Linked DNA regions of Homo sapiens: regions 1 and 2 are each linked to region 3. Evidence: fine-mapped expression QTL. A gene starts in region 3. Each other region holds a variant in brackets. All regions are shown on one strand. Distances are between the middles of the regions. Region 1 overlaps SLC16A12 (solute carrier family 16 member 12). Region 2 has its middle 19 kb from the start of IFIT1B. Region 3 holds the start of IFIT5 (interferon induced protein with tetratricopeptide repeats 5).

Region 1 (10,649 bases), 22 kb after region 3:
CAGTTATCTGTCATTGGTAGCTACGCTGGCAACAGATATAAAAATCTATTGCTTGACGGAGTTAAAAAAAAAAACAAAAAAAAAACTTTTTTTTTTTTTTACTCAAACTTTCAAGTGTGAGAAAAGAAACTCAGATATCCACCCTGAATTTGTACTATTTCATTTCAGTAAACAATTTCAGAATTAGACCTACTGGGACCAGGAAGGGGAGTGTCAAATAGACATTACCATTTTCATTATCACTGGCAGTGGTGAAGGCAATTCAAAAAGAACTCAACTCCTAACTGAGAAAGCCTGACTTTGGTAATGTGGAAAGCAGACAGTGGAACTAGCTCACTTTTGGGACAAAATATGCTCCCCAATTCACCCCCTCAACCCTAAATGCTCCCCAAAAGAAGCCTGGATCAATCAACAGCAAATTAAACCACTGAGCCTGAAAGTAGTGGTTTTGATAGATCCTCTTGGGAAAACTCTTGGAAATCTCCAATCTAGAATCTTCCTTCAATATTGATTAGAAGACTGAAGCATAATCCAAAGGATTTTATCTGTCCAAGGGAGCGTCGGTTTCCCAACAGCTTCTTGAACCCACATAAGATAATCCAAGTAGGCACAGGGGAAGGACACAGGGCTTCAGCATCAGCAGCATCCCAGTTTTACAGGATTTCACACTAGAGGATACTGAGCTGTGGGAACTGGTGCCTCAGTTTCCACATCTACAAAATGATAATAATAGAGGTCACTATGGGGATTAAATTCGACAATGACAATGCATAGGAAGTGCCTGGCATAATAGCTCACACATTGGAAGAACTCAATAAAGACTTCTGGTTTTTGTAAATCATTTGATTATTTAACACATCTTAAAATGCTGACCACATCTTAGCATGATCCAGACAGGCCCACTCACCATCCAGTCCAAACCTCTTGTCCGAGGGAAAAATGTCTTTCCAAACACAGGACAATAAATTCATTTTATTTTGCTTTTGAAATAAGAAAATATTAGCATAAATATTTCATCTATTAATGAAATTACAATCTGAACAAAAAGCCCAATCATACAGTGTATCTACAAAGTTAGATAATGTCTTCTGATTTTCTACTCAGATAATTCCAAAGTAGAGCTTACAGTAGTAGAAAGAAATATTTAAGATGTAAAATTATCCCACTATAATTTTGTTCTTGATTCCACAAAATACATCATTCCCATGAATTTCTCAGTTTTGAAATAAACAGTATAGACACATGGAACATTAACACTAAAATTCTGTGTAGAAATGTAAAATAGTAGACCTTAAGATGTACATTTTTCTTACTGATTTTCTAAAAATGCTGCCTCAAAAGGGAAAGTAAAATGCAAATCTATGCATGTATAAAGTCAAATCTCCCAAATGTTTTTATACAAAATCTTTAAAATTTCTGATCACTATGCTTATTTTTCATAAATACTTGTAATACTTCACAGAAATTATATTGCAGAACCACATAAACAAAATTTTGTTGTGATCATGATAAAAAATATGTATAAGAATATTTGTAACTATTCATATTTTTAAACATCTTTAGGCTTGAAAATTCAAGAAATGATATTTAGGGCAAAGTGCTATTCCAAACAGATATAACTTCATCTTAACTTTGACATTTTACAGATACCTTCCAATTTTTTTTTTTTGAGATGGAGTCTTGCTCTGTCGCCCAGGGTGGAGTGCAGTGGCATGATTTTGGCTCACTGCAACCTCCACCTCCTGGGTTCAAGCGATTGTCCGGCCTCAGCCTCATGAGTAGCTGGGACTACAGGCGCCCGCCACCACGCCTGGCTAATTTTTTGCATTTTTAGTAGAGACGGAGTTTCACGATGTTAGCCAGGATGGTCTTGATCTCCTGACCTCATGATCCACCCGCCTCAGCCTCCCAAAGTGCTGGGATTACAGGCGTGAGCGACCATGCCCAGTCCCAAATATTTTTAAAATTGCAAATGACAAAGTCAATGGGGTTCAAAACTAAATTCTTAAACTAAGTAAGGAGATAACAGACAACATTTAAATTTGTCTTTGGAAAACAACTATGAAATATTACCATTTTCTCCTATCAGATCAAGTCAGTATTTCATTCTGAAAGCAATGTATTAACATGTGATTTTATGAAATAATCAAGGTATAGGCAAGCTCTCTTGCGGAGCATACACATTAACTCAGGATCATCCTCATTGCTGTTTTTTTTCCCCCAGCACTTGTGAGGCCTTGTAGGGGACAGTGGATTAAATAGCCTTCAGGGTCAAAACAGTTCCTTGACATTTGGATTTTAAACTCCTGGTAATTAAAATTGATTGCATAATTTACTCCTATTACAGGTGTGACACACTGTGAGATTCAGGATTATAATTCTTTGGACTTAAAATGGTTGGAAACAAGCTGGGGGATCTGGACTTTTTCTTCCCTCCATGCCTTCCCTCTTCAATCTGAAGACTCAGAAATTATCCCAAACCATAGAAAAGTGGAGTATTTGAGAATGAATAAACTTATAATCCAATGAGTAGATTTCTAATTATTATCTATAAAGAGATGAAGAGCAGTGGATAGTGGAACAAGAATTAACACAGGGAGAAAGGAATCTCACCTTTAGAATATCTCTAGGATAATATTTTTCAGACAACTGACTCCCTCCAATCCTCTTTTGGGTAATGATAAAACTAAATGTCTGATCTGCAAAGAAAACTCTCACCAGAGACCTGCTGATTCAAGAATTCAGTTCCTGCCCAATTGGAATACTGCCAACATTTTTCCAACCTAACAGGAATGCGTCTGCAGTCTAAGTAAGAGCTTCTTCTCTGAAGGTAAAAGACGGGAAGTTTTGGTGTTGTTGACATTTCAGGTAAGATTGAGAGGTTGTCCTTGTGACTAAGTGTGTTCTGCTAAATTTAGAGTAAGTATTATATGTGATGGTAACAAATGTGAGAGCCTGGAACCCAGTCTTAGGAAAAGAGCTTTCGGTTTCCAGTGGACAATTTCAAATGGATCTTACCAGATGCCCTTTAAGATCTATTCCAACCATGGCATTCCATGATTATTTGGATTCTCATAGTGGTGTCTACCCTTGGGCAGAGGCAAGGGCTGGCTGGAAGACTAAGAGAAAAAAAAAATAAGAGTTTCTTTCTATATTAATCACCACTTTTTGAAGAATCTCAAGTATTCTTTAACAATCCCAAGTAAAACCCTAATGAGAAACTCCACCATGAAAAAGTATGGCATCTTCACTCTTCACCACCACACCCAAGCTGACCTCCCTTCTCTAACCAGAACAAGGTAAGCAAAGCTACACGTTAATGTTTCCATTTTCTTTCTGAGGAGGGAACATGAAGGGCCTGAGACTGGAACAAAGCTGCTGCCCAGTGTCATCTGCTTTGGTTATGCTTTGAAATTATCCCTAATTACAGCTAATTATATCAGCTGTGTCCTTACATTTCTTACAGAGCTATGCCCATTGACCAAAAGATACGAGTTCAGTTATGAGCACAAATCCCAAATGAGAAGGCTCTGGGCTAGTCCAGCTTTCCTTATTATGTGCTGTTTTCCCTTATAAATATTAATATGTTAACAAAACAATAATAATAATTTCCTTGGAAGGCAATCCTTCTGCCAAAATAAAAAGTTTCAGAAACATGAAGAATCTGGTGGCCCCACCTCTCTCAAACCTGAAGATTCTGGGGCTCAAGGCCTTTGGTCATGTGAGGCTGTAGCCAGGCACTGCTGTAGCCACAGGCTCCCCATGTTTCTGATCTAATTCTCTTGCCACAGAATAAGCCACTGATCCATTGGTCCATAGCTGCAGCTTAGGATCAGATTCTTTGGCAATGAACTGCAACTGGGTTTTTCTCATTCTCTTTATAAGTCTAGCAAAGCCAAGCAACACAGAACTAAATATCATTGAAAATCCACAGAGGAGGAATGCTGCAGTGTAGCTGCCGGTGGTATCTACCAGCCGTCCTGTAACAAACAACAGCAAAATTTTATTTTTGAGTTGAAAATTCAATTGCTTACCCACTCTCAAATTCTAATGATTTGTAAGGATAATAATAGATCGATAGCACCACCAATTGTAACTTTGAAACAAAAAGAGGTCACCTAAAAATATTGTGCAGCAACTGAAAAATACATTCTGTTTTCCAGGAAAACTTCTAGAGTGAATTGATTGTTGTTCTGTAAAGTGCTTGGAAAAGCATCATGTACTTAGTAGTCACAACGTAAATATTAGTTACTATTAACCCCATGAAATCTGGTAAAAAGATAAAAATAGCATCATTTAAATTATTAAGGTTGGAATAATTTACCTAGGGTGTTAAGAGAACATATTTGTACAAAATGCCAGTAGTATTCACAGCACCCATACACTGTTTTGAGTAACATGACATGCTTCAAAGCAGTATCACATTTTCAACTGGATTCAGTCATTGTACTCTATCCAGTTTGAAAATCAGAACTTTCAGCTATTTTAGCAGTTGCAAATGCAAACTAGCTTTTTTTTCTTTATCTCTTGTTGCAACAAATTAATCTCAATATCTATCTCAGCTCTAAATTTTGAGGAAAACCGGGCATATGATATGCAAAATAGGGTCCACAATGACAGAAAACCAGTGGAATAACATTATACTTCGTCAGGCAATTATTTTATAATTAACAAAGGTTTTTTTAAATTCCTTCAAACTTTCCTTATCTGCCAAGAAAACCCACCAGAGAAGTATATGATTTCTTCTCTTACCCACTTCAGATCCATTCGTCAAAAATAGCATGTAGAAGTTGTTATAAGCCCCACAAAATTTCCTGAATTTAAACTGCTCTCAAATATTTTAGTTATTGTTTGATTTACTTGTGCAATTCTATAGCACCAAACAAAAAAGACTGAGTACACAGTTGTCATTTGAAAGGTAAATAAATAAGAAAATGATACAATAAGAATTAATCCTCGAATTTCCAGTAATGAGTATCATGTCTGATTTGCCAATGAAGGCCACGAACTGAATCCCAATTTCATTTGTGTCCTGTGACCTTTGATAGAATGACACTGTTTCTAAAGGTTGGTGAGCACTAAAATAAGCTATGAAAGGAGGATGTGGGAATATTTTGGGGGCAGTTTTCAAAAATGGAGCATTAAACATAAAGATCTGTATCATGGAGTTCAAACTGAACAGGGTTTTGTCATCTGCACCACTCAAGCGGCCACAATTTCCCCTAGTTTGCTGTTTTTATTCCACCCCAATTGCTGGATTTGGAAATAGCCTGAAACTGTCTATTCACAATAATAGCTAATAGCAGAAACTCTGCCTTCCTCAAAAAAATTCCTGCCTTCTTTCTAGGCAAAGTTTTGGGTTATTTCTCTTTTGCCTGTCTTCAGAGAACTTGTTCACTCTCTCAGTTTTAATTTAGGCAGATAATAATATGGAACAGTCATTCTCAATATTTACCTCGCATGAGCATCACAACAAAGCTGGTTGAAAATGCAGATTTCTGGAACTCATCCTCAACATTCAGATCACAGGTGGGAGTGTCAAGGAATCTGCATTTTTAACAAGGTCCCTAGGAGACTCTGATGCAGGTGGTGTAGACCACATGCTTTAGGAAGGAGAAACAGCTTCTGACCTGTTTACTCCTGTCTCTCCAGCATGATAAACACAATGCTAGTTACACATGCAATATGTATTTGTTGAATTACTTGTTTAATGCATACAATAAATATTTGTCAAATTGTTTAATCATGCTTCACTCTATAGCATTTTAGAGTTTATAAAACATTCTATGTGCTTTATATGATGATTCCCAAATCTATATATAAACCAGGCCATCCACTAAAGCTCATATTTCATCTTTAAACAGCTCTATTGAGCATTTTTACCTGTATATTTCAGAAATCTCAACATATCTAAAAACCATATTCATTATTTTTCAGGCAAAGCCACTTTCTCGAATTTCCTTATTTTCTCAACCATGACATTATTTTCTAAGTCATCCTTGACTTCTTTCTCTCATTCACCTCTGTATGCTAAATTCTGCTGAATTTTGTTTTGAAAACTTCTTCCTTGCCCCCAGAGCTCATCTTTATTTCTGCTGCAGCAGCCCTAGCTCAGGCGTTTATCAGCTGCCTCCTAAACTATTAGAATGGAATCTTAGCTACCTCTCTCCTAAGTTACTAGATCAATTGCTAGATCACATTTTCTAACATATATACTTTACCATATTATCCTTTTACATAAAAACTTTAATACTATCCA[C/T]AGTCTCTGAAGAATAGAGCCCAGTTCCTCTGTCTGGCACCCAAAACACTCCACTATGACACTGGCGTTTATAATTTCAGCCTCATCACCCACTGCCCCCTGTTGGAATCCTGTTCTCCCCTGAGACTTCCCTCTGAATGCACCCTACTTATTTATAAGGCTGAACAACTGCTCCATCCCCCTGCTCCCATCATTAATATGGAAAGGAATCAAGACCCTAATTTGGGACTTACTCTTTCCAGGTAGGCTAAGGTTCTTACTTGGTTGGAAGAAGATTATAAAACAAGGATGTAGGTGGGACCATGATGGTTTTGGGGGCTCTTATATCCCTTTTCTCTTTCACTCTTCCCCAACTCTCTTGACAGTCCTTCTCATTGACTGCATGTGGGTTTGCTGTTTTCACATCAATATGCCAAAGAGAAAAGGTGGTTGGGGTTTCTCTCTGGAAACTTACCTGCGATGGGTGGGCTCACCAAGTATGGCACTGCGTGAAGGAAGTATACCACACCAAGCGCTGATGACAAAGAGGTGGTCCCCACTATCTCTGTGGTCACTACTGGGATCAAAGTCACATAGGCACCATCAAAGTAGCCAAAGGTACAAGAGAAAGGCACGAGCAGAGGGAGACTTTGAAGCATTGGGAGGCAGAGATAGCAGAGCCCATCCATTCCCACGGCAAAGAGGTAGCAAACATACTGGTAATTCTTCAGACACCTGTAGATTTGAAGAACAAGAATAAGTGCAGGAGGTACACATTCTGTAAAAGAGCTTTAGAGCCACGGCTATGCAGCAGTAAGCATTGCAGTTATTTACAGAGATGGCTTTCCCATTGTGTGTTATGTATGCTGTCTTCCTATCTTTCTTTTTTGCAAATGCAAGAATTCATCTCTCCAGGAAGCATGGTGTGGTAGAAAGAATATATACTTCAAAATTAGAAAGGTAGAATATTAAAACTAGTCCTGCCACCCACTGCCTGCCTAACTCAATTTCTTTAGCTATAAAATGGAAAGGTTACTTATCTCACAGGGTTACTCTGAAATTAGTCGTGAAATAAAATAGAAATAAAATGTAAAATGGGGTCTCCAATCTTTTGGCTTCCCTGGGCCACATTGGAAGAAGAAGAATTGTCTTGGGCCACACATAAAATAAACTAACACTAATGATAGCTGATGAAAAAAAGAAAGAAAGGAAAGGAAAGGAGGAAGGAAGGAAGGAAGGAAGGAAGGAAATAAGGAGAAAGAAAGAAAAGAAAGAAATAAAGAAAAAGAAAGAAAGAAAGAAAGAAAGAAAGAAAGAAAGAAAGAAAGAAAAAGAAAGAGTGCATAAATCTCAAAATGTTGTAAGAAAGTTTACAAATTTGTGTTGGACCACATTCAAAGCCATCCCAGGCCACAGGCAGCCCATGTGCCACAGGTTGGACAAGCTTGATGTAAAGGATCAGAAGGGTAATTTTCCTAGCAGTCTACCTTATTAGATACTTTTAGGTATGTTATCCATTGGTATCTGGCATGTCATAGATCATAAATACTCAATAACCCAAGTGGTTACACAAAGGGGAAACTGTAATACAAAGACATTAAAATGATTTGCCAGAGATGATGGAGGTCTTGGACTAGGATGAAGTCTAATATATTTCAAGATCTCCCAAGTGGTATTCCCATTAATTTTCCTGATAACTCCAAACCCATTTATGATACCAATAATTTCAAAGAATCTGTATAATGTCAGCTCCAACAGCTTATGCTTTACAAACATTTTTCTACTCACAGCCTCATTTGAACATCACAAAATAGTATAAGGTCAACAGGCAAATATTGCACTGGCTCATTTTACAGATAGAGATCATTGTGGATCTGAGGGTTAGGTGACTTTCTGTAGGTCACAGGGTTAATAAGGAGCAAAGCCAGTGCAAGAACTTAGGTCTAGTATGCCTCAGAGTAGAGATGCCTCCATTAGACCTACACCTGGCTGCTTCTTGCTGAGTTATTTGATTGTGAAAATAGGTAATCTTTGCTCTTCCACTTCTTCTTTAACCATTAAAAATGTGGAATCAATACTAAATATCATATTCATAACACTGGAGAATGGCAGTTGGATCCTGATTAATTACCAAAAACATAATTTGTGAGAAGCTACATGATGGTATTAGCCCTGCAGGTCATATCTCAAGTGTGAATGGTTCATCATTTAGGAGAATATGAGTAGCCTGCACTCTTCAGTCCAAACAGATGAGCATTTGCTGAAGAAATTACTTGGTAGATTTCTTATAACTTTGGTTTCTAAGCCTGCAATTACAAGGAAATTACTTGCAATTTGCATTGTCAAACATGAATATGTGGCTACAGACAATGTGTTATCATTGCACCTGGCCCTCCTGCCTAAACTGAATTCTGCTCCTTTTTCCATTGCCAGTCAGGACTGGTTCAAAAGAAACTAACACCACCACACCCAGCCAAAAGTTGTCTTGCTTGAGGACTGACTTGTCTTGGGATGGAATTAAATCTACCGCCAGAACTTGTAGTTACCCTAGGCTTCTGCAATTTAGACACATCTGGCCCATGACATCTTTTTGTACTACCTGTGAATTAAGAACGGTTTTTCCGTTTAAAAATGGTTGGAAAAAATCAAAAGAACAATATTTTGTGACACATGAAAATTATAAGAGAAATTCACATTTCAGTGTGCATAAAGTCTTATTGGAACGTAGCCACTCTCTTTTGTTTACATATTGTCTGTGGCTGTTTTGTACTATAATAGCAGAGTTGGGTAGTTATGATGAACACTTGGCCTACAAAGCCAAAAATGTTTACTATCTGTTCCTTTACAGAAAATTTTGCCAACCTCTGATCTAGAAGTACCAGCAAGGGAGATGCCTTCAGATACTGCAGACTTGTTAACATTATTCAGACCTAGGTACTCCACAGGGTAAGGGGCTGAGGAGAAACTCAAGGCTTAAAGTCCCCTGGTGGGGAACCAATTGTGGTTTCATGAATTTTACCTTCTGTCGGTCAGCCATCCAAATGTGATATTGCCAATAATGTCAATCACTCCAAGTATGGACATAAGAAAAGCAGCTTGCTGATGACTCACTCCAACACTCAAAGCATAAGGCACCAAGTACACAAAGAGAGGGCTGCAGCCATAAGCCATAAACAGAACGGAGACGGCTAACACAACAAAGTCTGACATGAGTAAAAAACTGTACTCTTGCTGCAAACAGCAACAGAGGCAAGTCTGTGCCCATTCTTTGGTCAAAGATGAATAGGGAGACACCCGCTTAATGTCTTCTTTCTGAGTTCTACACACATGGTTCTGCTCTGGAGTTGTGTGGTCCTCTTTAAGAGTAATTGGCCTCATCAAGGCACCACATACACAGAGATTCAAGACAAAGCCCCCAAGAATGAGTAAGGCTCCCCGCCAGGAAAACTGTTCAATAAGGAGCTGAACCACAGGAGCCAGGATGAAGGTGCCAATGCCACTTCCTGACATGGCGATACCATAAGCAAGGGCTTTCCGTCTGCTGAAGTACTTGCCAACCATGGCAATAGCTGGAGAGTAACAAAGTGCAAATCCAAGACCTGAGGATAAAGAGAACTCTATGAGTGCTGAAGTACCATAAACAGCCAATGATATCTCAGAATACAATGATTTATATTAAAGAGAATCTGACCTCTCATTAAACCCTTTTAAAGCTGCTTTTTACACCAAGCTTAAAATGAGTCTCCCCTCACCAGTCATTCACAATTTGGAAAATGTAGAATATATATGACTTTCTTTTTAGGGAGAACACCCTTAAGGAAATATGACTTCATAAACAAAATTAAATGAAGAACATAAAAATAATTACACAAACTAAATTGGAATTCACTAGAAAATCTGGATAATGCCAACCAAAGAAACTTATCACTTCCTCCATTTTTTAACTTAAATTATCCAGACAATTCCCTAAACGCTTCACTGCCTATGAAGACACAACACTGACAATCTGCACCACTCTGGAATTTGGATTCAAATAGCATGTACAACTATGAAAATTCCAGGGTAATTTTACATAGTTGGGAAACATCATGCCAATTTTATATGTGAACATAGCAATGTATATTTTCATATATGTGAAAATATCTCTTAAGGTCAGCAGACAAATGTTGACACTTTAGAAAGTTTTTAGAGACCTTCAACTTTTGGGCTGGGTGCAGTGGCTCATGCCTGTAATCCCAGCACTTTGGGATGCTGAGGCAGGCAGATCACTCGAGCTCAGGAGTTTGAGACCAGCCTGGGCAATATGGCAAAACCCCATCTCTGCAAAAAAAAATACAAAAATTAACCAGGTGTGGTGGCATGCACCTGTAGTCTTAGCTACTCAGGAGGCTGAAGGGGGAGGATGGCTTGA
Region 2 (10,649 bases), 54 kb before region 3:
AACCATGCACTTGAATCTCTTAAGTTACCCACTTGGCCCTCTTTCAAGGTCAAGAATATAAAGCACACTGGGAGGCCGAGCCTGGCAGATCACGAGGTCAGAAGATCGAGACCATCCTGGCTAACATGGTGAAAACCCGTCTCTACTAAAAATACAAAAAAATTAGCTGGGTGTGGCAGCGTGCACCTGTAGTCCCAGCTGCTGGGGAGGCTGAGGCAGGAGAATGTTGTGAACCAGGGAGGCAGAGCTTGCAGTGAGCCGAGATCACGCCACTGCACTCTAGCCTGGGTGACAGAATGAGACTCCGTCTCAAAAAAAAAAAAGAATATAAAGTGCATTCAAGTACTTCACTTCCCCTTATTCCTGCTCTAAAACTTTTTAATAAACTTTCTCTCCTGCTCTGAAACTTGCCTCAATCTCTCTCTTTGCCTTTTCCCCTCAGTCGATTTCTTTCTTCTAAGGAGGCAAGAATTAAGGTTGCTGCAGAACTGTATGGATTTGCTGCTGCTAACCAAATGACTATTCCTCTACCCCACCACCATATATAAATTGTGTATTCAGTGAAAGGCTGATCAAAGATCCAAAAGAATGCAACCTTTTGTCTCTTATCCGCCTATCACCTGGAAGCTCCCACTTTGAGTTGTGCCACCTTTCTGAACCAAATCAACGTACATCTTACATGTACTGATTGATGTCTCCTGTCTTCCTAAAATGTATAAAACCAAGCTGTGCCCTACCTTGGGCACATGTCCTCAGGATCTCCTAAGGGCAATGTCATGGGCCATTGGTCACTCATATTTGGCTCAGAATAAATCTCTTCAAATATTTTAGAGTTTGACTCTTTTCATTGACAGACACAAGACTAGTCATGCCATGTAGGAGATGGAGTTCGTATTCAAGTCGTTCTCCTTCAAAGCTCATAAGTTAGAAGTTTTGTTCTTGTTTTTGTTTTTTCTGAGACAGAGGCTGACTGTGTCGCCCAAGTTGGAGTGCAGTGGTGCAATCTCGGCTCAATGCAACCTCTGCCTCTCAGGTTCAAGCAATTCTACTGCTTCAGCCTCCCGAGTAGCTGGAATTACAGGCACCCACCACCACGCCCTGCTAATTTTTGTATTTTTAGTAGACATGGGGTTTCACCGTCTTGGCCAGGCTGGTCTTGAACTCCTGACCTTGTGATCCACCTGCCTCGGCCTCCCAAAGTGCTGGGATTACAGGTGTGCACCACCATGCCCGGTGTATGTTAGAAGGTTTTCAAAGTGTGGAGGTGGCTAGGCTTGCTGCTGACTGGTTGGGCAAAGACAAAATCATAGACAGTTGAAGCTGTCCTCCTGCATGCTGAATTGCTTCTGGATGGGGCCACAGGAGGAGGATTGGTGGATTCAGGTGGGTCCAGGTGGAGCCATGGGTATCAGACATGCAAAAAACCTGAAAAGATGTGTCAAAAGGCCAATTTTAGGGTCCTACAATAGTGTTGTTATTTGCAGGAGTAATTGGGGAAGTTGTGAATTGTTTAACCTCAGGAATAACGGCTATCAAACTTTTATGTCTGCCCCCTAGTAGGATTCAGTCTCCGCTCCTCCCCACAGCCTAAGGGACTCTCATTAGCTTTACAAAAGTGGTTGAGTTTGGGGGACAGCCTATTACCATTTAAACTATAATCTAATGTCTTCCAAAGTTAGCTCAACCCAATAGCCCAGAAATAATTATGGGAAAGGCAAGATGGGGGTTGGTGAGTTAGCTCAGATCTCATTCCCTGTCATAATTTTCTCACTGATACAATTTTTGCAAAGATGGTTTCAGCCTGAAGGCTGCAATCCCCTTATGAGAAATAAAGCTCTCCTTTCAAAATTTATGAAGTTTGTTATTCTTCAGTTGAAATTATAAAGGATACAACTATTAGAGACATTTGAACCAGAGAAACTCCATCTTGAATAGGGGCTGGGTGAAATAAGGCTGAGACCTACTGGGCTGCACTCCCAAGAGCTTAGGCATTCTTAGTCATAGGATGACATAGGAGGTCAGGACAAGATACAGGTCAAAAAGGCCCAGCTGATGAAACAGGATGCGGTAAAGAAGCCAGCCAAAACCAAGATGGTGATGAAAATGACCTCTGGTCATCCTCACTGCTCATTATATGCTAATTATAATGCTAAATTTAGCATTATAATTTAGCATTAGCATGCTAAAAGACACTCCCATCAGCGCCATGGCATTTTGCCATGGCAACATTCAGAAGTTAACCTATATGGTCTAAAAGTGGGAGGAATCCTCAATTCTGTGAATTGCTTGCCTTTTTCCCAGAATACTCATGAATAATCCATCCCCTGTGTAGCATATAATCAAGAAATAACTTTAAGTATACACAGTTGAAAAGCCCATGCTGCTGCTCTGCCTATGGAGTAGGCTTTCTTTTATTCCTTTACTTTCTTAATAAACTTGCTTTCACTTTACTCTGTGGACTTGCCCTGATTTCTTTCTTGTGTGAGCTCCAAGAACCCCCTTTTTGAGTCTGTATTGGGACCCCTTTCCTGTAACACAACTAAGGAACAACCAAATGGAAGAGTTGCATAGGGCAAGGTATGGGGTGAGTAGGGGGAGGAAGGGTGGGCATGGAGCTTCCATGTTTTTGCTTGGGATGCTACTCTTCCAGCACCTCAATGTGTTCACCAACTCAAAACCTCTCAGAACCCCATCCTTTAAAGCAGGTGTCCCCAATCCCTGGGCTACAGACTGGTAGTAGTCCGAGGCCTGTTAGGAACTGGGCTATACAGCAGGAGGTGAGCAGCAGGCGAGCAATCAAAGCTTCCTCTGTATTAACAGCCATTCCCCATCACTCACATTACTGTCTGAGTTCCGCCTCCTGTCAGATCAACAGAGGCATTAGATTCTCAAAAGAGCACGAACCCTATTGTGAACTCTGCATCCGATGAACCTAGGTTGCGCATTCCTTATGAGAATCTAATGCCTGCTGATCTGCCACTGTCTCCCATCACCCCCAGATGGGACCGTCTAGTTGCAGGAAAACAAGCTCAGGGCTCCCACTGATTCTACATTATAGTGAGTTGTATAATTATTTCGTTTATATTACAATGTAATAATAATAGAAATAAAGTGCACAATAAATGTAATGTGCTTGAATCATCCTGAAACCATCCCTGCCCAGTCTGTGGAAAAACTGACTTCCACAAAACCAGTCCCTGGTGCCAAAAAGGTTGGGGATTGCTGCTTGAGGGGTTTTTATGGAGGTTCACAATATATAGGTAAGATTTTGATGACTGATTGAATCATTGGCCACTGGTGACTGAACTCACTTTCTAGCTCTTCTTCCCTCCCCAGAGGTTGGGGGATGGGGCTGAAAGTTCCAACCCTCTAATCATGCCTTGGTCTTTTTGGCAACCAGCCCACATAATGAACTATCTAGGGGCCCCCAGTAGTGTGACTTCATTAACATAAACTCAGGCATGGTTGAAAGGGGTCTGTTATGAATAAGAAAACATGCTTCCTATCACTGTTGGAAATTCCAAGGAATTTAGAAGCTCTGTGACAGGAACCAGGGACAAAGGCTAAGGAGATATTTCGTATTATACCATAGCAGTGCTATTTACATGGGAAACAAGATCACCAGGAAATCCTCCCTGAATCTAAACCCCTCACTTGCCTAAGAAGCACCAAAGGACACAGGACAAACCTGAGGAGCCTCTCAGCTGGAACCAAGCACTATGTAGCAACTGTGTCTCTCAAGAAACTATGAGGTCAACCTCTTGGTGCTCCTGGACTTTTGTTTCTAGCATATTTTTAAATTCCTGTATTTTTCTAGAATGCAAATTTCCCTGCAGACTCCTCCTAAGAAAGGCAAACTTTCTAACTCTTCTATTATGCTTTCTTACTAAGTTAACAGACACAGACCCAGAAAGAAAATAAAGTTGTGTTAACAGTAAAAGTCATTGCATTTGTGTCATAATTCTAACCGAATGAAAACATCACAAGCGATGTTCATAGAATTGCAAACCAGACAAAACTGACCTGAGGTTTGAGAGGAGCTGAATGAGACAGGATGATGGGAGGAGTGAGTTTTAATCTATTCAGGCTAAGATGGATCACTCAAAGGTAGGTAGTAAAATAAAAGAATTTTAAAGGTAGCTATGTTCAATTTTTATTTGAAAGCATCAATGCTTGGGGTTTTGTTGTGATGATAACCATTAAAATAAGATTTATCTTTTCAACAGATGTTAGGAAATATAAAACCTAACCAAAATTAAGGTATATCTTATTCAAAAGGTACACATTCCTCTTTTCCTGTTTGGTTTTGTGCTGGTAAGTTGCAGAAAGTATTTTCTTCTCAACATTATACTGACTGACTTGCTAGAATCTTTTCATCTGATATAGTGTCAGGAGAAGGATAACTGAGAAAAAAAAAGAGGACCCTATTCTCAGATGCATCTTCCACCATTTAAATACCTGTAACTGCCTGCTGCGAAGAGGTCTGCAGGAAGGACAGAGACCACTTTCTATTAGTTCCTCCATGTGGTGAGAAGATAATCTGGCCGCCTGAGCCACAGTCCCAGGAAGGCCATTAAATGCCCTGCAGAATCAAAACCACAGTGAGATAGCATCTCATCCTGGTTAGAATGGCTACTATCAAAAAAACAAAAATAATGAATGCTGATGAGGATGCAGAGAATGGGGAACCTTATATACTGTTGGTGGGAATGTAAATTAGTACAGCCACTATGGAAAACAGTATGACGTTTCCCCCCAAAACTGAAAATGGATTTATTATGTGATCCACTGCTGGATATATATTTTTAAAAATTGACATCAAGTTATCAAAGCGATATCTGTATTCTCATGTTCATTGGAGCACCATTCACAATAGCCAAGATATAAAAACAAACTAAGTGTCCATCAGTGGATGAATAAAGAAAATGTAGCTTATAGACACAGTGGAATATTATTCAACTATAAAAAAGAATGAAATCCTGTCATTTGCAACAACATGGATAGAACTGGAGGTCATTATGTTAAGTGAAATAAGCTAGGCACAGAAAGACAAATATTGCACATTCTCAATCATATGCGGGAACTAAGAACAAAGTGGATCTCATGGACATAGAGAGTGGAATGTTGGTTACCAAAGGCTGGGAAGGGTAGAGGGGAGGGAAGATAAAGAGGGGTTTGTTAATGGGCACAAAAATGTCATTAAATAGAAGGAATAATTTCTAGTGTTCGATAGTACAGTAGGGTGGCTATAAGTTATTGCATATTTCAAAATAGCTAGAAGAATTGGAATGCTCTCAACACAAAGAAAAAATAAATTATTGAGATGATGGACATCCCAATTACCCTGATTTGATGATTACACACTGTATAAATGTATCAAAATATCAGTTCTTTCAGTGAATGGAGCAAAGGAGGATGCCCATCAGCCAGCAGGTGTCAGGGGTTTTCTCAGGTGAGCTGCCCTTTTGTCCATTTTTGGCACTGCTGGAGAGGAGCAGCCCAACCCGTCCGTGATCTTGGGCCTCTGAGAATAGAGGAAGCTTGATGTGGGCCTCAGTCCAACTTAATCTGGAAAGTCTGCCTAAGGCATATTTTAGAGAGGGAGGACACATTTTGGGGCACATA[T/A]GTTTTATATTGTTGCACCCCAAAATATATATAACTATTATGTCTCAATAAAATAAATAAATTGATGAATTAGTTAATTAAAAATAAAAATAAATGCCCTGTAGGGCAGTATTTGAGGAATAGGATATTGGTGAGAGAGATTCACTACTAAGAGGTTCCTATTTTTGTTAACTGCATTCCTGGTCACGAAATCATGTTAATCCTAGTGCTACACATGGGGTTGACCAGGAAACCAGGTTGACCTGCCCAGGGCCTTAGCAGCCAGCCTGCCCAAGAGGCTTTTCAGCAAAATGCTCAGGTGTGTCCAGAGCCCTCTGACCTGAAGGGCCTCAAGGAGAACCTCTAGATTATGCTGGACTGAAGCCCTCATCAAGCTGCTCCTATTCGCAGAGGCTCAAGACCATGGCAAGGTGGGGTGCTCCTCCCAGAAATGCCAAAATTTGACAAAAGGGGAGCTCACATAGGAAAACACGTGTCACCTAATGGTTGATGGGCGTCTTCCTCTCACCCATCCACTGAAGGCCTGGATCTCCCTCTCTATCTATCTCTCTCTCTCTCTCTCACACACACACACACACACACACACACAAACACACACACACACAATGATAATGCCAACCCTAATGCTAATGCCTAAGTTCTATGTTCTGCTTGGTAATTAGCTCACTCTGCCTTGATCTCTTATTGCGTTACCTCAGCATTCTCACTATAGTTCTATAACTAGGAATGATTATAACTCTTACTGGGTCATTTTGCAAATGAAGAATTTGGAAATTGAAGTTAATTACTTAAACTCACACATGTACTAAGTGGGGCAGAATTGGGTTGTTAACCAGGTTCCCTGACTCTCTGCTTCCTAATCATAAAACATATGAGAATGAACTATCTTACTGCCCTTTATTTGCTCAGTTTTTAAAGAAATAGGAACCTGGAGGATTTTAAGTGCCTAGCATCTATTTAGAGAGTAACAACTACTGTTTAATAACATTTCACCCCAGAATGTGCCTGTGGCTCACAATCTAGAGAGGAAAAGATGGCCCATGTTGGGGAGGACACACCCATAATCAACACAAAAGAAAAACCTCTCCTGCTTGTTGCCAAGGCAGCCAAGCATTATTGTTCAGATTATTCATTAGCCAAAGGGGTAAGGGAAGAGAATGAAACCCAGTCTACATTTGGCTCACCAAGATAAGTGTCCTGGCAAGGGACACATATACTCACAGAAAAGGGCACTCTTTTCTAATTTACACAAGCACCATAGAGACTAGAAGTGGTACATGTGAGGCTAAGAGTGATGGTTTAAAAAGAATTGGATTTTTACTAGAGATGGGTTTTCTCCATGTTGGTCAGGCTGGTCTCGAACTCCCAACCTCAGGTGATCCACCCGCCTCGGCCTCCCAAGGCATGAGCCAGGCATGAGCCACTGCACCTGGCTCGTTCCCCATCAAACATGGGGATTCCCTAAGATCACAGCAGTCAATCTCAATGATCTTTCCTGCTTCAATGTTTTCTCTGTGTATTAATTTCCTAGGGCTGCCATAACATAGTACCACAAATTGGGTGGCTTAAAACCACAGAAATTTGTTCTCTCTCAGTTTTGGAGCCCAAGAGCCTAAAATCAAGGTATCAGCAGAGCCATGCGCCCTTTGAAACTCCCCGCAGCATCCTTCCTTGCCTCCTCTTAGGTGCCATGCTCTCTCTTCACATGGCATCCTTCCTTGTGTTTTTATATCTTCCCTCCGTGTGTGCCTGACTCTGTCTCATTTCCTCTCCTTATGAGGACATCAGTCACATTGGGTTAGCGTCCTCCCAATGTGCTCATCTTTGATTATATCTGCAAAGACCCTATTTCTAAATAAGGTCACATTTACAGGTACTGGGAGCTAGGACTTCAGAGCATCTTTTTGGTGGACACAATTCAACCCTCCAATATGTCATAGATAGGACTGGGCATAAAGGAGTAGTTGGCTCAAAAGCTGCTCCTAACCAATTCTCTTTTGGCATGTTGATGACTCTAAGAAATAATTCTTTGTAAGAAAAAGGAGAAGACCATGCCTGACACTGAGTTTATTCAGAAAAGTCACTTTGCCCACCGTCTTGTTTTAGGGGGAAGAATAAAACTAGAAATGTTTATTTCACTATTTCTGCCTTGGGGAAAGAAGCAGTTGTTTTCAAATCTTAATGGACCAAGTTGGAAACCTAGAGAAAGGTGAGAAAGAGCTTCTCCTTGCCCCAGGTTCATTTCTCCTGACAGCATTATTGCTTTTTTGATGCATGTCATCTGCTATGGCATCCTGAGAAACGAAAGTGTCATATAGCATTGAGGAGTTCAAAACCTATCTAACTGCATTAGTTTTCCAACTAATCTAAGTCACTGGCAGATTTAATCCCTTTCAGCCAGTATTCAAGCAGACAAAATGCATTTGCTGATATCATGATGTTGATAATTTTTAACTAAGGCTTCACAGCCTAGTATGGTTCCTCCTTAGGATATTGCAGGGACAGCACCAAACACTTGGCAATATGGAATGACGTTGACAATGTTAAGCTTTACCTAAGCCTTATGCTCCTGGAAAACAGCTATGGGGAAAAAAAAATCCACCCCCCACCCTCCACCTGCCTTTTTTTTTTTTTTTTTTTTTTTTTTTTTTTTTTTTTGAGACAGGATCTCATTGTGTGTGTCACCCTGGCTGGAGGGCAGTGGTATGATCACAGCTCACTGCAGCCTCAACCTCCTGGGCTCAAGCAATCCTCCTACCTCAGCCTCCCTGAGTAGCTGGGACTACAGGTGTGTGCCACCATGCCCAGATAAATTTTTTTTGCATTTTTTGTAGAGCTAGAGTTTTGCCATGTTGCCCAGGCAGATCTTGAACTCCTAAGCTTAAGCTATCTGCCCACCTTGGCCTCCCAAAGTACTAGGATTGCAGGTGTGAGCCACTGTGCCCAACTATTTAACAATGTTTCTACCTATCTTTTCATTAGATAGCATTCCATTTCCATCAGAAAATCACGCAAATACTTCCTGTTTATTTTCACAGTAAAAATGCTGATTATCATGGAGTCAAAGATAGGCTTGAGCAGTTGAGATGTCACTTTACATGGGGGTTGCTAATTGAAGCCCTTGAAATTTCTGATTTAGAAAACAGGGTCTTGGAAGAGATCCAGTTCGTGGACACAAAGTACAGTGTGGGAATGCACAACATACTAGCTTATGTGAAACACTGGAAGGGCCAGAATGAGAAAGCACTAGAGAAAGAAGTTGAATGAGAACACACCAACCAAGCAGACATGAGTGACCAGTATCATCACATGGGCAGGTGACCTGGGGCAACTTTGCCTGGGCTGGGGCAAATTTGCCTGGGCGTATCACCACATAGGCAGACTGGCAGAAGCCCAGACTTACCTGGATAAGGTAGAGAACATTTGCAAGAAGTTTGCAAATGCTTCCCGCTATAGAATGGAGTGTCCTGAGATGAACTGTGAGGAAGGATGGGCCTTGGCGAAGTGTGGAGGAAAGAATTATGAACAGGCCAAGGCCTGCTTTGAAAAGGCTCTAGAGGTGGGCCCTGAAAATCCTGAATTCAGCACTGGGTATGTCATCACTGCCTATTGCCTGGACGGTTTTAACACAACAGACAGTAATGAGACATTTTCTCTGCACCCCCTAAAATGGGCTGTCAGTCTAAATCCAAAAGATGCACACATTAAGGTTATCCTTGCCCTGAAGCTTCAGGATGAAGGACAGGAAGCTGAAGGAGAAAAGCACACTGAAAAAGCTCTAATCAGTATGTCTTCACAGACCTATGTTTTTCTATATGCAGCCCAGTTTTATCAAAGAAGAGGCAATATAGATAAAGCTCTTCTGCTCTTAAAAATGGCCTTGCAGGGAACACCCACTTCTGCCTTCCTGCATCACCAGATAGGGCTTTGCTGCAGGAAACAGACAAAAAAAGCTAAAGGCAGGATAGAGAAACTGTAGACAAAATAATAAGATTAGTTATATCTCATGTTGAATTTGCTGTAGAGCAAAGGCCCACATTTGCAATGGTTTATGTGGACCTAGCCAACAGGTATGCAGAGGGAGGTGAACACCAAAAAGTTGAGGACATTTACCAGAAAGCACTCAGCCTGCATGATATTAATAAAAGCTGTTGCAAGAGATTTATTATCGTTATGGCCCCTTTCAGGAATGTCATGGGAAGTCTGAAGCTAACACAATTGACTAATATTAAAAAGAGCTGGGCTGGGCGCGGTGGCTCTCGCCTGTAATCCCAGCACTTTGGGAGGCCAAGATGGGAGGATCACAAGGTGAGGAGATGGAGATCATCCTGGCTAACACGGTGAAACCCTGTCTCTACTAAAAATACAAAAAATTAGCCAGGTGTGGTGGCAGGCACCTGTTGTCCCAGCTACTCGGGAGGCTGAGGCAGGAGAATGGCGTGAACCCGAGAGGCGGAGCTTGCAGTGAGCTAAGATCATGCCACTGTACTCCAGCCTGGGCAACAGAGCCAGACTCCATCAAAAAAAAAAAAAAAAAAGCGAGGGGGGGCGGGTGTGGCTAAATATAGAAATTCAGTCAAGTGCTAGAGGAAAAAAATTTTAGTGCTTTACTGAATTGGCTAACAGGCAAGTTCATTTGCTTAAATCTGATGAGGAGAGTTTGAATCTCATTGTGCTCCTTCACACATTGAAAGGGGAAAAGAAAGTGAAGCTGTGCTGTCCTATGAGACAGCCTGAGACGGGCTACTGGCCTGAACCCTGTCTTTTGAGATGTTAAATGTTATCATATCTAAATCTAAATATCAGATAAATCTTCCCTGATCGCTGCTTTCAAAAAGGCATGACAGGAAGCAACATAAAACTGTTTGGTGGCACACATCGCATCATCAGCTCAACTCCCACTTTTTGGCTAATGAACACCTATCCACGTGGTTGTGGCAGCAATATCAGCACTTCTCCTTTATCACTGCACCCCTTTGTCACTCTTGATATGTCTTGTGTTAGGTACCTGGCACCTGCCAGAC
Region 3 (7,469 bases):
ACCTTGGTGGTTCAGAGAGGACAGAAAATGGAGCATGCCAATCACCCGGTAGGGCTTGTTATCAGTGTGGTTTACAAGGACGCTTTAAAAAAGACTGTCCAAACAAGCTGCCCCCTCACCCATGTCCACTATGCCAAAGCAATCACTGGAAGGCACACTGCCCCAGAGGACAAAGGTTCTCTGGGACAGAAGCCCCCAACCAGATGATCCAACAACAGGACTGAGGGTGCCTGGGGCAAGCACCAGCTCATGTCATCACTCTCACTGAGCCCCAGGTATGTATAACCATTGAGGGGCAGGAAATTGACTTCCTCCTGGACACTGGTGCAGCTTTCTCAGTGTTAATCTCCTGTCCTGGACAGCTGTCCTCAAGTTCCATTACCATCCAAGGAATCCTGGGACAGCCTGTAACCAGGTGTTTCTCCCACCTCCTCAGATGTAATTGGGAGACTTTGCTCTTTTCACATGTCTTTCTTGTTATGCCTGAAAGTCCCACACCCTTATTAGGGAGGGATATATTAGCCAAAGCTGGAGCTATTATCTAAACGAATATGAGGAATAAGTTACCCATTTGTTGTCCCCTACTTGAGAGGGGAATCAACCCTGAAGTCTGGGCATTGGAAGAAACAAACTCAAGCTCTAGCCTTAAGCCTTCCCAAAGGATGAAACTTTTCTTTAAACATCACAGAGAAAGCAGAAATAGCTCCTGGGGTCCTTACTCAGACTCGTGGGACAACCCCATGACCAGTGGCATACCTAAGTAAGGAAACTGATATAGTAGCAAAAGGCTGGCCTCACTGTTTAAGGGTAGTTGTGGCAGTGGCCATCTTAGTGTCAGAGGCTATCAAAATAATATAAGGAAAGGGTCTCACTGTCTGGATACTCATGATGTAAATGGCATACTAGGTGCCAAAGGAAGTTTATGGCTATCAGACAACTGCCTACTTAGATACCAGGTGCTACTCCTTGAGGGACCAGTGCTTCAAATACCTATATGCGTGGCCCTCAACCCTGCCACTTTTCTCCCAGAGGTTGGGGAACCAATTGAGCATGACTGCCAACAAATTAGTCCAGACTTATGCTGCCCGAGATGATCCCTTAGAAGTCCCCTTAGCTAATCCTGACCTTAACCTATATACCGATGGAAGTTCATTTATGGAGAATGGGATACAAAGGACAGATTATGCCATATTTAGCGATGTAACCATACTTGAAAGTAAGCCTCTTCCCCCAGGGACCAGCACCCAGTTAGGAGAACTAGTGGCACTTACCCGAGCCTTAGAACTGGGAAAGGAAAAAGCAATAAATGTGTATACAGAGAGCAACCATGCTTATCTAATCCTACATGCCCATGCTGCAATATGGAAAGAAAGGGAGTTCCTAACCTCTGGGGGAACCCCCATTAAATAACACAGGGAAACCACGGAGTTATTGCACGCGGTGCAAAAACCCAAGGAGGTGGCAGTCTTACACTGCTGAAGCCATCAAAAGGTGAAGGAGAGGGAAGAACAGCAGCATAAGCCACTGGCAGAGGCAGGGAAACACCAGCAGAAAGGAAAGCAAGAAAGAGACAGAAAGTCAGAGAGAGAGAGACAGAGAGAGGAAGAGAGAGACGAAGAAGTCAAAGAGAGAGATAGAAGTAGTAAAGAAAAAACAGTGTACCCTATTCCTTTAAAAGCCAGGGTAAATTTAAAACCTATAATTGATAACTGAAGGTCTTCTCAGAAACCCTATAACACTCCAATACCACCTTGCTGTCAGTGTAAACAAGGGCGTAGCCTGAAAGCACTGAGGCCACTGACAACCAGTAGCCTTCCTATCAAAAATCCTTACCCAGCAGGTTTCCTAACAGGGGATCTAAATCTTAATTAATTCCCATACAAAGGTCTGACCAGATCTAGGAGGAACTCCCTTCAGGACAGGACGGATAGATGGTTCCTCCTGGGCAATTAAGGAAAAAAAAAACACAATGGGTATTCAGTAAATAATAAGGAAACTCTTGTAGAAGCAGTGTTAGGAAAATTGCCTAATAATTGGTCTGCTCAAATGTGTCAGCTGTTTGCACTCAGCCAAACCTTAAAATACTTACAGAATCAGGAAGGAGCCATCTATACCAATTCTAAGTTAATATGGACTGAACGAGGTCTTACTAATAGCAAAGAATAATTGAAATCCCAAACTTACAAGGTTTTCAACTAACGTAAAGTTTGCTAAAAGTTAACAGTGTAACATGCATTATCCTACTACCATACACTCTCAAAGGATTTCTCAGACAGTTTGCATGAAATAATGAAATCTATCCTTACTCTACAATCCCAAACAGACTCTTTGGCAGCAGCGACTCTCCAAAATCGCCAAGGCCTAGACCTCCTCACTGCTGAGAAAGGAGGACTGTGCAGCTTCTTAGGGGAAGAGTGTTGTTTTTACACTAACCAGTCAGGGATAGCACGAGATGCCACCCGGTGTTTACAGGAAAAGGCTTCTGAAATCAGACAACACCTTTCAAACTCTTATACCAACCTCTGGAGTTGGGCAACATGGCTTCTCCCCTTTCTAGGTCCTGTGGCAGCCATCTTGCTGTTACTTGTCTTTGGGCCCTGTGTTTTTAACCTTCTTGTCAAATTTGTTTCCTCTAGAATTGAGGCCCTCAAGCTACAGATGGTCTTACAAATGGAACCCCAAATGAGTTCAACTAACAACTTCTACCGAGGACCCCTGGACTGACCTGCTGGCCCTTCCACTGGCCTAAAGAGTTCCCCTCTGGAGGACACTACACCTACAGGGCCCCTTCTTCGCCCCTATCCAGCAGAAAGTAGCTAGAGCAGTCATCAGCCAAATTCCCATCAGCAATTGGGGTGTCCTGTTTAGAGGGGGGATTGAGAGGTGAAGCTGGCTGGGCTTCTGGGTCAGGTGGGGACTCAGAGAACTTTTCTGTCTAGCTAAAGGATTGTAAACGCACCAATCAGCACTCTGTGTGTAGCTAAAAGTTTGTAAACGCACCAATCAGCACTCTGTCAAAATGGACCAATCAGCACTCTGTAAAATGGACCAATCAGCACTCTGTAAAATGGACCAATCAGCACTTTGTAAAGTGGACCAATCAGCTCTCTGTAAAATGGACCAATCAGCAGGATATGGGTGGAGCCAAATAAGGGAATAAAAGCAGGCCACCCCAGCCAGCAGCGGCAACCTGCTCGGGTCTGCTTCCACGTCGTGGAAGTTTTGTTCTTTCGCTCTTCGCAACGAATCTTGCTGCTGCTCACTCTTTGGGTCCACACTGCCTTTATGAGCTGTAACACTCACCACAAAGGTCTACGGCTTTACTCCTGAAGTCAGTGAAACCACGAACCCACCGGGAGGAACGAACAACTCCGGACGCGCCACCTTTAAGATCTGTAACACTCACTGTGAAGGTCTGCAGCTGCACTCCTGAAGTCAGCAAGACCACGAACTCACCAGAAGGAAGAAACTCCAGACACATCTGAACATCGAAAGGAACAAACTCCAGACACGCCATCTTTAACAACTGTAGCACTCACAGCGAGAGTCCGCAGCTTCATTCTTGAAGTCACCAAGACCAAAAACCTACTGGAAGGAACCAATTCCGGACACACCATCACCTACGTATTAAGCTCAGCATCACTTAGCTATACTTCTTGATGCTCTCCCTCCCACCACCCCCAACTCCAACAAGCCCCAGTGTGTGTTGTTCCCCACTGTGTCCGTGTGTTCTCATCATTTAGCTCCCACTTACAAGTGAGAACATGCAGTGTTTGGTTTCTGTTCCTGCATTAGTTTGCTGAGGATAATCACTGGAAATACTTGCTCTGTATTTAGAGTTCATAAAATTTGCAACTTATAAAAAGCAGATTCGTATACCTAAGTTATTCCAAATGTAAGTTTTCTATTAACTTATCAGTTTTTAAATTTATATTAAATTAAAAATCAGGTTCTTAATAGCCACAGGTGACCAGCAGTTTCTGTATAAGACAGTACAACTGTTAGAAGTGATTGCTTTAAATGAGGCACTCGCTTCAGGCACTAAGTTTTGAGGGGTGGGGTGCCAGAAGCTCAGTGATCAAGGTAGACAATATTTCAATGCAATATGTTTTTAAAAATTCAAAATCAGGCCAAGCATAGTGGCTCATGCCTGTAATCCCAGCATTTTGGGAGGCCACGATGGGCGGAACAATATTTAAGGTTTAGAAAAATATTTGTGCCCAGGTGTTGGAGACCAGCCTGGGCAACATGGCAAAACCCCGCCTCTACAAAAAATAAATTAATTAGCCCGACATAGTGGTGCACGCATATAGTCCCAGCCACTCAGGAGGCTGAGGTGGGAGGATCGCTTGAGCCATGAAGGTTGAGGCTGCAGTGAGCTGTCATCTCACCACTGCACTCCAACCTGAGTGACAGAGTGAGACCCTGTCTCAAAAAAAAAAAAAAAACCAAAATCAATGCAAAAGATGAATTATGGACAGGATATTGAGGTTTTGAATACAGACATTAACTCAATAAGGGTAAGGCCCGTGTCTGTTTTCTTTATTGTTATATTGACAGTACTTTGAACAAAGTCTGGCTCTTACAGTTGTTTGTCAATATTTGCTGAATGAATTCAAAGGGGACAAAATGTTTAAGGTATGGGTGTTTGACATTTTCTGCCTAGATCCCCAATACCACTCTTGTCTTTATTGGGTCCTTATTACAAAGCACCATTGGCGAAGGTATGGAAGAGAAGCAGTCTCCTACAATTGTGGGTAAGAGTGGATTTTTAAAGCTATTTGGCAATATCCGTCAAAACTTAAAATGTATATAGATTTTAGCTCCAAATTTCTCAGTTTACACCCAACAGAAATAACAGCATAGATGTATAGCATTGCAGTGTTGCTTGTTGAATCAAAAGACTGGAGTGGAAGCAGGGACTTAAGTTTCCGCCTGTAATCCCAGCACCTTGGGAGGCAGAGGCGGGCGCATCCCTTGAGATCACGACTGGGTGACACAGTGAGACGCTATCTCAAACAAACAAACAAACAAACAAACAGTTACACGGGCAGCATGCGAACTCAGCGTACTCAGGGAGGCAGATAAAAGCCGAGACCAAAGTGAAGGAGCCCAGCTGCAAATTCAACTCCGAAAGACCCTGGACTCCGCAAACGTCTGGCCGCGGCTCTTGAGCTCTTCTATTAAGTTTCGGTTTCTGAAGCTTACGTTTAGTTTCGATTTCTTAAGTTTCAGTTTCTGAGCGCTCGGCATCTGATTCAATCTCCAGTTTCCTGTTCTTGCTGGGGCTGGGGTCTCTCCTTTAACAAAGACACGCCGCGCGGCCGAGTCCAGGGGCTGCAGAGGCCTGGCGCGCGCACGCGCACGCGCACGCCCACCGCGCGGCTTCCCGCGGTCCCCGGTGCTGAGGAGAGAGCGATCCGAGGGACTGCGCCGCCCGGACGGCCTGCAGAGCGCTGCCATCATGAGGTAAGGGTTTTCCTTTGCCTCTCCTCCCAAGCCCTGCGTCGGCCTTGGTTTCAAACCGGGCTGCTTTTATTCATTTCCAGCGCAGTTCTGCGGCCTTTTCAGGGGCCGAGCCCCTCGCGCCCAGCAACCGGGCATCTGCGTTGGGGACCCTCCCCGGGCGCTCTGTCCCGGCGCGCGGCGTCTGAAGTCGGGCCTGCCGGGGAGGGTGGCCGAGTGGACGCTTCTCGGGAGTCCGGCCCCTCCCCAGCGCCTAAGAAGGCCGGTCAGGGAGGAGGAACAGGAGATGCTCCCCGGGAGCCTGTCCCATCCCTGGCGTCTGCGGTCGGGACTGTCAGGGTATGTGCCGGGCGACGCTCCCCCGGAAGGCCTGTCCACCCATCGCGACCCGACGGCTCTTCTCGGCAGCGGCGACGGTGACCGTGCTGGGTCCGCGGCCGCCGCCTCCGGGAAACTGGTCAGCGCCTGCAGAGCCCCCAGGCGCTGTTCCGGGGGCAGCTGCTACGTGCCACGGGTCTCCTTAGGCCTGTCGCGTGCCTCTCTTTCCAGCTGCCATTCCCTCGGTGTGGCATACGCGGTTTCGCCGCAGCCCTGCAGGCGTCAGGTTCGCCTGCCACTGCCAGTTTGCGTTTCTGATTTCTGGGTCTGAGTTCTTCCCTTCCCAGGAGCTACCTCTGTACCAAGCACAGATTGTTATCGTCCCACCCAATCCGCTGTTTTATGAGGATTTCTTTATCTGTTTCCTTTACTGATTTAGTATGATGGCGTCCTTTTCTTGATCATTTTGTATCCCCAGGGGCTAGCACCCCGCCCTGCACGTGGTTAGTGAACCTTCCGCATTTAATGAGTTGAGGAATGAGATGTTAAGGTCTTGGGCTCTAAAAGCAGATAGTCCCTTGTTCTAAATCCGGACTGAACTCCTACTAGTTGAGTGATCCCAAAGTTTCTCAAACTCTGTGAGTCTGTTCCTTATTTGTAAAAATTAATGGTGTCCATCTCTTGGGACTGTGGAAAAGGACAGTAATAAATCCTATCAGTTGACTGCTTAGCACATAATACTTGCACAATAAATGTTAATTATTCCCATTATAAGTTTAAAAAAAAAGTTTAAGTGCCACCCACACATCTAACTTTATTTTTGAGACGGAGTCTCGCCCTGTCACCCAGGCTGTAGTGTAATGGCTCCATCTCGGCTCACTGCAACCTCCGCCTCCCGGGTTCAAGCCATTCCCCTGCCTCAGCTTCCCGTGTAGCTGGGATTACAGGCGTGTGCCACCACGCCTGGCTAATTTTTTGTATCTTTAGTAGAGACGCGGGTTTCACCATGTTGACCGGGCTGGTCTCGAATTCCTGACCTCGTGGTCCACCCGCCTCAGCCTCCCAAAGTGCTGGGATTACAGGCGTGAGCCACAACGCCTGGCCACATCTAACATTTGTAAGAAAGGAGAGTGCTATCAGGAAGGGGCTTGACAACAACAACAACAACAAAACAACAACAACAACAAAAAACAGAAAAAGACGGTGGCGTGCACCGTATATATGCAGGATGGGGAGGAAAAGGGCTCAGCCCCATTGGGGACTGTCTCCCAAGGACAATGAAAGTCTGCTTCTTCCTAGCAGAAGAACAGAATTACCGAAAGATACGTGTTACCTCTTCTGATGCAATAGCTTCTCTCTTATTAGCTTCCCAAAGACAAAGTTACAAAATTAAGTAGACAAAGTTTAAACAATAAAAATTCTCATGGTGTCCAGTTGTGCATAAATTCCAGAGCCTGGACAAACCACGTCAGTACCTGATTGAATGTCCCTTTGAGATCTTACAACCAAATCCATAATACCTGAGCAGCCCTCCTCATCCTCCTTGGGCTGGGCTGGTAGAGACCTTCAAAACAGGTGTTTGTTTTAGGCAGGGGGCTGGTAAAGCCATGTTGTTGTGGATTTAAGCAGGCTGTAAGGACATGGCATGTCTTGCCCATATTTTTGGTACAATTACACTAGAGAAA

The links. PIP is the estimated chance that this variant, and not a neighbour inherited with it, causes the effect.
Region 1: its variant is the best candidate, but not a certain one, in a credible set for the expression of IFIT5 in left ventricle (GTEx, PIP 0.83).
Region 2: its variant is the best candidate, but not a certain one, in a credible set for the expression of IFIT5 in sigmoid colon (GTEx, PIP 0.62).

The regions. Positions count from the first base shown.
Region 1 is chr10:89,429,347-89,439,995 of GRCh38, forward strand. SLC16A12 (solute carrier family 16 member 12) reads right to left here. Exons shown (of 8, transcript NM_213606.4): 6 at 9,258-9,837; 7 at 6,714-6,973; 8 at 953-3,980. The coding sequence ends at 3,718. Among named protein-coding and RNA genes, the nearest start is that of IFIT5, 20 kb to the left of the region's middle. The variant C/T (reference allele first, on the strand shown) is at 6,260.
Region 2 is chr10:89,353,630-89,364,278 of GRCh38, forward strand. It overlaps a transcript of LIPA not described here and the pseudogene IFIT6P. Among named protein-coding and RNA genes, the nearest start is that of IFIT1B, 19 kb to the right of the region's middle. The variant T/A (reference allele first, on the strand shown) is at 5,626.
Region 3 is chr10:89,409,335-89,416,803 of GRCh38, forward strand. It overlaps IFIT5 (interferon induced protein with tetratricopeptide repeats 5), which reads left to right and starts at 5,234. Exons shown (of 2, transcript NM_012420.3): 1 at 5,234-5,469. The coding sequence starts at 5,465. It also overlaps a transcript of LIPA not described here. RefSeq lists enhancers at 5,091-5,400, 6,011-6,110, 6,211-6,280.